Linked DNA regions of Homo sapiens. The protein of the gene in region 3 purifies or fractionates together with the protein of the main gene of each other region. This does not show direct contact. Each region holds a gene or a part of one and is shown on either strand. Other genes may lie near its edges. The genes, in order: ATIC, PREP and CTH.

The links.
Region 1: the proteins of CTH (region 3) and ATIC fractionate together in Homo sapiens (co-fractionation; one large-scale study listed by BioGRID). This does not show direct contact.
Region 2: the proteins of CTH (region 3) and PREP fractionate together in Homo sapiens (co-fractionation; one large-scale study listed by BioGRID). This does not show direct contact.

What each region holds. Positions count from the first base shown.
Region 1 is NC_000002.12:215,342,993-215,346,647, reverse strand, and holds part of ATIC (bifunctional purine biosynthesis protein ATIC), read right to left. Parts: intron 1,870-3,655; coding exon 1,777-1,869; intron 1-1,776. UniProt on the Homo sapiens protein: Bifunctional enzyme that catalyzes the last two steps of purine biosynthesis.
Region 2 is NC_000006.12:105,280,935-105,284,589, forward strand, and holds part of PREP (prolyl endopeptidase), read right to left. Parts: intron 1,649-3,655; coding exon 1,517-1,648; intron 969-1,516; coding exon 812-968; exon of another isoform or gene 1-811. UniProt on the Homo sapiens protein: Cleaves peptide bonds on the C-terminal side of prolyl residues within peptides that are up to approximately 30 amino acids long.
Region 3 is NC_000001.11:70,428,135-70,431,789, reverse strand, and holds part of CTH (cystathionine gamma-lyase), read right to left. Parts: intron 1,997-3,655; coding exon 1,939-1,996; intron 1,474-1,938; coding exon 1,396-1,473; intron 1-1,395. UniProt on the Homo sapiens protein: Catalyzes the last step in the trans-sulfuration pathway from L-methionine to L-cysteine in a pyridoxal-5'-phosphate (PLP)-dependent manner, which consists on cleaving the L,L-cystathionine molecule into L-cysteine, ammonia and 2-oxobutanoate.

The DNA.
Region 1 (3,655 bases), on a different chromosome or scaffold from region 3:
ATCAGGCCAAAATAAGAGAAATATAAATAATTTTTAAGTCATTAAAAGGGGTGGAGTAAGAGGTTTGTTTATAACTACTATTTATACCTCTTCAGTGATATGTGACATATGACTATTAATAATCTACAATTCAATAAAATTGATGGTTTGAGGTCAAAAAAAAAAAAAAGTTAAAATAAATGACCAATGCTGGGTGCACTGGCTCATGCCTGTAATCCCAGCACTTTGTGAGGTTAGGACAGAAGGATTGCTTGAGCTCAGGAGACCAGCCTGGGCAAGATGGCAACATCTCATCTCTACAAAAAATAAGAATTAAAAAATAGCTAGGGGTAGTGGCGCACACCTGCAGTCCCAGCTACTCAGGAGGCTGAAGTGGTAGGACCGCTTGAGGCCAGGAGTCGAAGGCTACAATGAGCTATGATCATGTCACTGTACTCTGGCCTGGGCAACAGAGCAAGACCCTGTCTCTATAAAAAATAAATAAATAAATAAATAAAACTAATGACCACAAAAATAACTATGGTTACTTGAAAGTCTTTTGTTTGCCCCAGTGTATAAATTACAGTTAAAATATCAACTCTCAGAAATTGAGATAAGGATCTGACATGGGTAGCTAAAAGTAGAAACAATTCCGCCAGGTACAAATGTTCTTCCTTCTTTCCTCTATTTCTATGGGTTGAATTCTAAGCAACAAGGACTTAAATGCACAGGTGTGTTTTCTGGTTTTAGTTCCTATAATGAACAGCCCCTAAGCTGTCTGCCCAACAGTCCATCTCTTTCTGAGCACAGCTGCTGGCAACCCTGCCCACAGCTACAAGAGAATAAAAGAGACCACAAATACCTGGGCAGCCGCCTCCTCCTCAACATCAGGAATGAAGCACTCATTCTACATGGACTTACAGAACTTCTTAGAACCTGACACCAGTAGACACAATCTCCCAGGAGTTTGTTACTACAGAGACTGGCAATCTGGGGTCTTCCAGGCCATAGGCTAATTCATATCCACCCACCTCCCTGTCACTTGTGGGCCAAATAATTTAACAAATGCCAAGAGATAAGCTCAGGACACCAGGTGAAGAAAAGGCTAGCAGAGACCTCAGAGATGAACCAGCTCCATCTTGTATTCTGAGGCTCGGGACACTAGGAAAGAAGTGTAATATCTTGCTTAACGTCACACAGTGAGAAATGTTTGGTATTTAATTGTGGCAGCGGTCACATACTGTGAAATTTGTGAAAACTGGTCAAACTGTACTTTAAAAAGGTGAATTCTACTGTATACAAATTATGCCTCAATGAACCTAACTTTTTAAAGATGAAGTTAACTCCTAGTCTAGCAGTCTTTCTACTCAGCAGATTCTTGATAAGACAACATAAGAAATAATGTGAAAATACCCTGCAGGCTGCAAAAATATAGGCTGGTGGGTGGCAGTACCGTAACTTACCTCCTCTTCCCTGGAAATAATACCAATGGGGGAAAAGGAAAGGAAATAATCCAGTTTTGTAACAGCTATTAGAGTCTCACTAATCCAAAATGTGCCAACCTATTCAAGGCAAGAAGCAGCACAACTACTTTGAGTACCTGGTTCCAAAGATATTTTCTGATCATCATTAGTTTTAACAGCCCACCAGGGTACTGAGGAAACACTGACAAACACAAAAGACAAACATTTGGCAAATATTCCCTTTCAAGCTGTCCAATATCTAAGGCAGACGGATGTTTAAATATCATTTCGTAAAACAACAGTCCCCCGAAGGCGAGTCCAACAGCCCACTTACCTGCCCGTTCTTGGCGTAGCACACAGAGTTAGACTGAGTGTACTTGACAGCAATGGTGGCTACGATGAGGTCTCGGAGGGCAGACTCTGGCAACTGAAACACATACACAATGGTAAATTGCATGGGGCCTTTTAAACTCATTTAACTTTAAGCTTCTTTTTTTAAATATTATTTTTTGTGGTTTTTTTGAGTCAGAGTCTCACTCTGTCTCCCAGGCACAATGGGACAATCTCCAACGGCACAATCTCGGCTCACTGTAACCTCCACCTCCCGGGTGCAAGAGATTCTCACACTTCAATTACAGGCGCATGCACCACCATGCCTGGCTAATTTTTGTATTTTTAGTAGAGATGGGGTTTCACCATGTTGGCCAGGCTGGTCTCGAACTCCTGAGCTCAAGTCATCTACGTGCCTCAGCCTCCCAGAGTGCCAGGATTACAACAGGTGTGAGCCACCACACCTGGCCAACTTTAAGTTTCTTAGTTCTATTTAATGTAAAAGACCTACAACATAGTTATACCACTCAAATGACAGAGGGAAATTAACTGTTCTCCTACACACTACCATGATTTACTTAAATATTTAACACATTTGGGGTGGAACTTAGCACAATGCATCCATAGACACAAACTCATGTTATTTTGTAGCAATTGTGGATTAAGCCTTTTTATATCACATGAGGTAAGAACTACCATATCCATTCCAAAACTGACAAACAATATTTTCTTGACCAGAGTACTTTTAAATATCTGGAGACATGGTAAAATTTACGTTCAGAACCAATGCGGAGAATTGTTTCATAGACATCACAAATCGTTATGATGCACACAGACAGCCAAGACTTTGGAAAAATCAAATTACGATCATTTTCTCTTTTGTTTAGAATAACTTAAGTTGAAACTGTTCAAAAACCATTAGGAATTACCAGTCCAAATAGAACAACAAGAATAACGCCCAAAAATATCACTATCTTTAGTATCAGGCATGAATACAAATGGAAAAGAAGGATGATAGTCCACGTCTGTATGCTAAATGGACAGAGGATATTTGCTACAGCCAACAGATAAGTTGATAAATTTGACTTCAGTAAAATTAAGAACTTTTCCTCTGTAAAAGATTCCTCATTAAAGAGGATGAAAAGACAAGCTACGAACTAGGAGAAAATTATTAACAAACCTCATATCCAACAACAAACTAGCACCTAAAACATAAAAAAACTTTAAAAACTCTGTAACAGGACAGGCGCAGTGGCACATGCCTGTAATCCTAGCACTTTGGGAGGCCAAGGCGGGTGGACCACCTGAGGTCAGAAGTTCCAGGCCAGCCTGACCAACATGGTGAACCCCATCTCTACTAAAAATATAAAAATTTGCCAGGTGTGGTGGCGCATTCCTGTAATCCCAGCTACTTGGGAAGCTGAGACAGGAGAACCACTTGAACCCGGGTGGTGGAGGCTGCAGTGAGACAAGATCATGCCACTGCACTCCAGTCTAGGTGACAGAGCGAGACTTCATCTCAAAACAAAACAAAAAAACTCAGTAACAATCAAAAATTTAATTAGAAAATGGGCAAAAGACAGACATTTTCACCAAAAAGGATACACATGTAGCAAATAAGTACACAAAAAAATGTTCAACATCATGAGCTATTATGCAAATTAAAATCAGTGAGAGATTGCTACACAACTATCCCATGTCTTTAAAAAAAAAAAAAAAGTAGCAATACCAAAAGCTAGTAAGGATGCAGAGACATTGGATCACTCATCCATTGCTGGTGGGAATACAAAATGGTACAAGCCACTCTGGAAAACAATTCAGCAGTTTCTTAGTAAACTAAACATGCAACTACCATACCACAAAGCAGTTAACAACCCTGGGCA
Region 2 (3,655 bases), on a different chromosome or scaffold from region 3:
AATCCCATATATTTGATATAAAGTATAATAATACCTTTTGATTGTTACAGTAACAAATTACCACAAATTTTAGCAGCTTGAAACATCACAGACTTCTTATCTCACAGTTCTGTAAGCCAGCAGTCTGGGTTGGCTCAGCTGGGTTCTCTGCTCTGGGTCTTCCAAGGTCAAAGAAGGTCAAAGTCAAGGTGTTGGCTGGTTGGACTCTTACGGGGAAACTCTGGAAAAAACCTACTTGCAGTCTCGGGATGTTGGCAGAATTTAGTTTTGTGCGGCTGTGGGACTTAGGTCCTGTTTCCTTGATGGCTATTGGTTGGGGGTTGCTCTCAGGTTCTAGAGGTCCCCCTTCCTCCATTGTCAAAACCAGCAATGGCAGGCTGAATCCTTTACAAGCTTCCAATTTCTCTGACCTCCCTTTCTGCTGCATCCCTGACTCCAGCCAGAGAATGTGCTCAGCCTTTAAGGGTTTATGTGATTTGGGACCCCTCAAGAGATAATCCAAAGAGCAGCAGATGAATATCCTGCTCCCTGACAGCAAGCAGTATCTAGGTAAGTGTTTGAATAACCAGGGTAGGAATCTTGGGAGGCCATCTGTAGAATTCTGCCCTACCACATTTTTTGTAGTTTGTTGCTTTTGTTCAAGACCATATTAAATCAAGAAAGACAAGTAGGTAGTCCCATCTCCTCTCCAGCAGATTATATGCAAATGCAAGACCCTGACAGTGACAAAGCTCAAGCACTAATCCTGCTGTGACTGTGTTCAACTTTATATCAAACCACTAACAACATATATATGTCAATAAAACCTTACTTGACAAGCCATTCAAAGTGTTGTTTGCTGTCCGAGCACCCATAATCAGTGGTCCAAGCATGGCCGATGGTATATTTATGAAACTTCAGCATGTCCATTACTCCAACTTGGGCAATAACACAACCAAAGAGGTCAGGTCTCTGATTTGCACAAGCAGCTAAAAGCCCAACGTAGAAAGAAAAGGGAGGCAGTCTATCATTAAACATCTACATAAACAAGGCAAGGCAATACTTACTTACATGCTTCCAGAGCCCTGGTTGCATTTATCCAGAGCACAAGAGGAAACCATCAGAAATCACCTGCCCAATAGCCCCAAAGCTCCCCACCCACTCTGAGATCTGTCAGAGGGGGTGGGGATTCTCATCAGTAATGGAGCTTTACTCCCCAAAGTGAATCTTGAAAAGCTTGAGGACTTTCTGGAAACCCTGTATCCCCTCCTCCCATCCCCACTTGCTTTCACAGTGATGAGGGAGATTAAGGGACTTGTTCAAGATCTCAGGACCTGCCCAAGGCAAAATAAATAGGGTCTCTTCGTATGTCATTTATCAGATACCCAAATACAAATGGTACAAATGGGTTTTGCTCTCCTTATACCACTTTGTGGTCCTATCCACAAAGTTAAGTCAAGAGCTGCCTACAGATGGTGTATCTGAAAACCCCAAGAGGGCTAACTAGTAAGTGCAATGAATAAAATCCAGTACTCACCCACTAAGAGGCCTCCATTTGAACCTCCATTAATAGTCAGCCTCTTGGGAGATGTGTAACCTTCCTTGATCAGATACTCAGCAGCACACTGAAAGTCATCAAAGCAGTTTTGTTTGTTGGCCAAGATACCACCTACAGTGTGCCAAAGTGGAAGATAGTTAATTAACAAAACATAAAAATAAGTTTAATCTAATGGGAATTCAAATGATAGAGCACGGTTTCAAATACTGATTAACTTAAAAACCATGGGTTAACACTGCATTTAAAAAAAAGCCTCAATTTAAGTTCTGTTATGCACTGTGGAAATATATCATCAATACCACAATGCTAATCCATATGGTGGATCTGTATTTTTCTAAAAGCCTCTAGAACTTAAACGGGAAATGCCCCAAAGGGAACAGATGGTCGGTTATGAGAGATGTATGATAATGAAAGGATAGAAGCATGGCATCACAAGGAACCTGTATTTTGGGAAGCTGAACTTACAAATATAAAGCAAGACCTGCAGCAGTGTTTAGTCCTCTAGGTTGCACCCAGCACCCGAGCCGGAGCTGGCTGTGGGAGTGCTCGTGTCTCCCCTCCCCGCGAAGACGGAGGTGGAAGCGCTCTGCAGAGGCACGCTTCCCACCCCACCTCTGCAGGAGTCTGACATGGTCGGTGATGGGGAGAAAGAAATTCCCCAGTCTTGCCCTCGGTTATTAATGGAAAGAACAAAAGGAATTGGGTGGTGAGGTAGCGTTGCGGCAGAGCATCACATTATGTTTTCTCAATTCCAGAATGAAAGATCTTCAACGTTTCCCCAGAGAATCTGGGCTTTATCATCTGCAAATCGTTCCAGTGTATTAAACCAAACAAATTACTTGGAGAAACATTTACAGGGCCATGAAATATCTATAAGTAAAGGCCAAAAGTCAAAAGCATGTCCTCAAAGGAACAGATGTCTGAAATAACGGCCTTTGAAATGAACAAAGAGCAGACACAGATCTAATTAGATACTTGAGATTAACCACTTCTGCTGAAATTTAATTAAAGATAAAGCAGTCCTACTGAAATGTTTTTCATATCAAAACAAATGTTATTAAGATTTCAGTAAGAAATTACCAGTGAATTTAGAACAGCTAGGATTACTTAGTTACTAGGAATAACAATATTTTGGGTATATGACTACATTTTAAAAAGAGCATTAAATTTTAAAGTCAATTAACAGAATGGAATTTAGATTTACCAGTGTATCATATCCTAGGCTATAACTGGAAAAGGTCTATTTCTGGTCCTTTCATCATGGCCTAAATTTTGAGGAAGTTTATAAATCAGTCTAAACATAGTCTACTGTTAGCCTTAGTCAATCTTGAACCTGCCTAATCCCAAGACTGGAAAATAACTTGGTTCTAACTAATAAAAAATGAGAGAGCAGACTAGGACCAAATTACTCTTCCCTCTCAGAGCATGGTGGACATCTGATGACCAGAGGGGTTTTCTGGAGAATAATCCAGTTATTTCAGGAGAGGATCCCAGGATCAGGGGACCATGAGTAGGGGGTATGGTGCATAAACTACATACAATTTAAATAGGAAATCAGGTGAGTCAAGGGGTTCAGAATTAGCATACATATTTGGGATCAAACATATGGTATACAGAAATTTTATCCTCTTATCACTCATCTTTTAATATCAGTTTCACAGTATGATTTTAGTGTAAACTCTAATATCAGCTCAAAATTATGCAATGAATTCTTTGCAGTTTCAAAGACAGTCACAATCAGTAGTTTCTGGGGATGATAACTGGCAACGATGGACCAGATGGCCGGCCAGGGGCACTCACTTTCACTAAGGTGCACTTGAGGAGTCTGCTGTCAGCCCCTGGGGTGCATGCTGGATGCCCGGGGGTCATTTCTAAGCCTTTCCTGCATATGGTACCTAACAGGTACTTAATGGAAATCTCTTTACAACAGGTTTACCCTCATGTTCGCTGATTTGATTTGATGCAAAAAAAATCCAGAGCCTCAGGCCTCTGGTTTGGGATGGCATGGGAAACAGAAGAGAGGTACAGATATCTTAAGGGTGGTCTCTGATGCTGAGGAGACCCCTCTCACCTGGAGCTGCTGACCAGCCCCAAGCACTGGGGTCCTGGTAGGCCTTA
Region 3 (3,655 bases):
ATCATAAATTGTTCATAGCCTAACCTTGTATTTCTTTGAAAAATTATTTTAACATACAGAGAAAAACAGCAGTTCAAGTCCTATTATTACTGAATATTCTACTAATATTCTATTTAGCCTTTGTGCAAAGCGGTCAATGATTTCACATGCCTCCAGGATATATACTTCATTTCTACTTTTTATAAACCAAAGGACACTTATCAAGCAATAAGTTTCAGTTTCCCTTGTGGAGGACATTTTTATTCCTAATCATGTTTATATTTTACCTGTCAAGTTACAATGGCTTAATCTTTAACTATACTGGAGATAAACTAAGCAATGTAAATAGGAAATGGTGTTTAGACATCTATTGAAAAATGTAAGTTTATACTGTAAGTGCTATTTAAAATTAACCATCATTCGTGATATAAAAGGTATAGTATATGAAAGCCCTCATTTCAAATGTAATTTTAAAAAAGAAAAAAAAACCATTAAGTCTTGAAACTAAAAATTCACTAGGGCTTTATCAAATTATGATTATAATTAAGATGGACATGAAAATAAAAAAACTCATTTCTTATATCATATCATAAAGCCTTGCTATGCTATAACCGTTTTTGTTTTTTGTTTTTTGAGACAGGATCTCACTCTGTTGCCCAGGCTGGATTGCAGTGGCACGATGTCAGCTCACTGCAACCTTCGCCTCCCAGGCTCAGGTAATCCTCCTGCCTCAGCCTCTGAGTATCTGGGACCACAGGCACATGCCACTGCACCTGGCTAATTGGTTTGTATTTTTGGTAAAGACAGGGTTTTGCCATGTTGCTCAGGCCGATCTCAAACTCCTAAGCTCAAGTGATCCACCTGCCTCAGCCTCCCAATGTGCTGGGATTACAGGCATGAGCCACCGTGCCCAGCCTGCAATAACTATTTTTATAACACTTTCCTCTAAAATCAGAAAAAATTTTTTTGGCCAGGCACGGTGGCTCATGCCTGTAATCCCAACACTTTGGGAGGCCAAGGCAGGTGGATCACCTGAGGTCAGGAGTTTGAGACCAGCCTGGTCAACACGGTGAAACCCCGTCTCTACTAAAAATATAAAAAATTAGCTGGGCATGGTGGTGGGCACCTGTAATCCCAGCTACTCAGGAGGCTGAGGCAGGAGAATCGCTTGAACCCAGGAGGTGGAGGTTGCAGTGAGCTGAGATCACGCCACTTCACTCCCGCCTGGGCAACAGAGTGAAACTCCATCTCAAAAAAAAAAATTAATAAATAAAAAAAATCAGAATTTTTCTCCTCTATTTTTCATTTCTTCATAAATTATTAGAATGCCATCACTTCACATCACTTAGTGGAAATACAAATATCAAATGTAGTCACTGAGAGTGTCATAGGGAACCTGCACTTTTTAATACTTACAGTTTTGCAAGAAACGAAGTCTATTATGAAGGCTTTCACAATTAACAGACACCAGGCCCATTACAACATCACTGTGGCCTAAAAACAAAAAACAAACAAACAAACAAAAATTTCAGTTAGAAACAATTTATGTTTACTCTTTATTTTATAATTTTCAAAATGTGATTTTCACTTGAAAAAACTCTCAGGGAAAAAGCTCTATAAAATAAGTTTAAGTAACCTTTATTCAACTGGACAGTAGCAAAAGCTATGTCTAAAACAAGAAAATAAAAATTATATAAAAACAAAATGTTTCTTTAAGGTGTCAGCAAGATAAAAGCATAACTTTTTATGGCCAACTTTAATCCTCTTCTCATAAATCATGAGCATAGTTTTGTGTACTGTTAATGAAATCCTACATTTAATCAAAGGATTTTTTTTTTTACTCTCTCTATGAGTCACAGGAAATAATCTACAAAATAATCAAAGAAAAGGGATCAAAAGCCAAGCCCTATGCAATTTTCACCTATCCATGAAAAAGAACATTCAAAGTATGCATCTTACCATTCATGTATTTTGTTGCAGAATACATAGAAATATCAGCTCCCAGAGCCAAAGGGCGCTGAAAGAACAAGTTTTTTACTTTAAATGAGAAACAATTTGAAAATATGCTTCATTACCTGCCTATTTGCAATTATAAATTCCATTCTTATTCTAATCAATACTAACTTTGCAAAAGTATGTGCATCTTAAAATTTTCCAGGATCTCTGATATTATTTCTCCTTTGCCTCCCTCCCACCAAAGAAAAATGTAAAGTATTGAATCCAGTATTGAATCTGAAGGCAAAAGTTTCTTGGAAAGCGCAGATAAGCCCAGGTCAACTGGTCTCTTGAACCTGTTTCTTTATAGCAATTGCTGACAGGACTCTAAATTTATTACCTACAGTAGAGACTCTAGTATTTTATGACTCATTAAACACATAAAATAGTTGAAATGAACATTCAGCAATTTTTATGTAGAGTAAGTATAAACTCATCTGCTTAGATTTTTAATCATTAAAACCTCATGACGTATGCTGTGATTATTTACATTTGGGGTTTGTCATGATCTTGATTCCTAATTACTCAGCCCTTCCTATGTGTGGGTTTCACATCCATGGATTCAACCAACCATGGGTAAAAAAATACTTGGAAAAATAGATGAACAGTTGTGTCTGTATTGAACATGTACAGACTTTTTTCTTGTCATTAGTTCCTAAACAATATAGTGTAACAACCATTTATAAAGCATGTACATTGTATTAGGTATTACAAGAAATCTAGACGGCTGGGAGTTGGAGAATGGCTCACTCCTGTAATCCCAGCAATTTAGGGGGCTGAGGCAGAAGGATCACTTGAGATCAGGAGTTTCAGGCTGCAGTGGACCATGATCAAGCCGCTGCACTTCAGCCTGAGTGACAGAGCAAGACTTTATCTTAAAAAACAACAAGAAAGAAAGAAATTTGCTGGGTGCGGGGGCTCATACCTGTAATCCCAATACTTTGGGAGGCTGAGGTGGGTGGATCACTTGAGGCCATGAGTTTGAGCCCAGCCTGGCCAACATGGTGAAACCCTATCTCTACTAAAAATACAAAAAAATTAGCTGAGCATGGTGGCACGCACCTGTAATCCCAGCTACTCAGGAGGCTGAGGCAGGAGAATCACTTGAACCCAGGAGGCAGAGGTTGCAGTGAGCTTTTCATGACACCACTGCACTCCAGCCTGGGTGACAGAGCAAGATTCTGTCTCAAATAAATAAATAAATAAATAAATAAATATGTCTGAAACTGGGAGAATTAAGAAAAATAAAAATGAAAAGGAATTTTTAAAAGTGTTTTCTTTCACCCAATTTTCCTGTAAATTAATCCTTTAAGTCATGGAGTATAATGTGATGCTCAATACATGTGTAATTGTGTAATGATCAAAAGCAGGGTAATTAGCATGCCCATCATCTCAAATATTTATCATTTCTTTGTAGTAGAAACATTTAAAATCCTCTCTCCTATTTTGATATATACAGTATCTTATTGTAACTATGATCATCCTTTTGTGCAGTAGAACACCAAAACTTATTCCTCTATTCCTCCTTCTAATTGTAACTTTGTACCCATTGACCATCCTCTGTCCTCCCCACCTCCACCCTCCCTTCCCCAGACTCTAGTAACCGCTGTTCTATTCACTACTTCTATGAGATCAACATTTTTTACATTCCACACATGAATGAGATCATGCTATATATGTC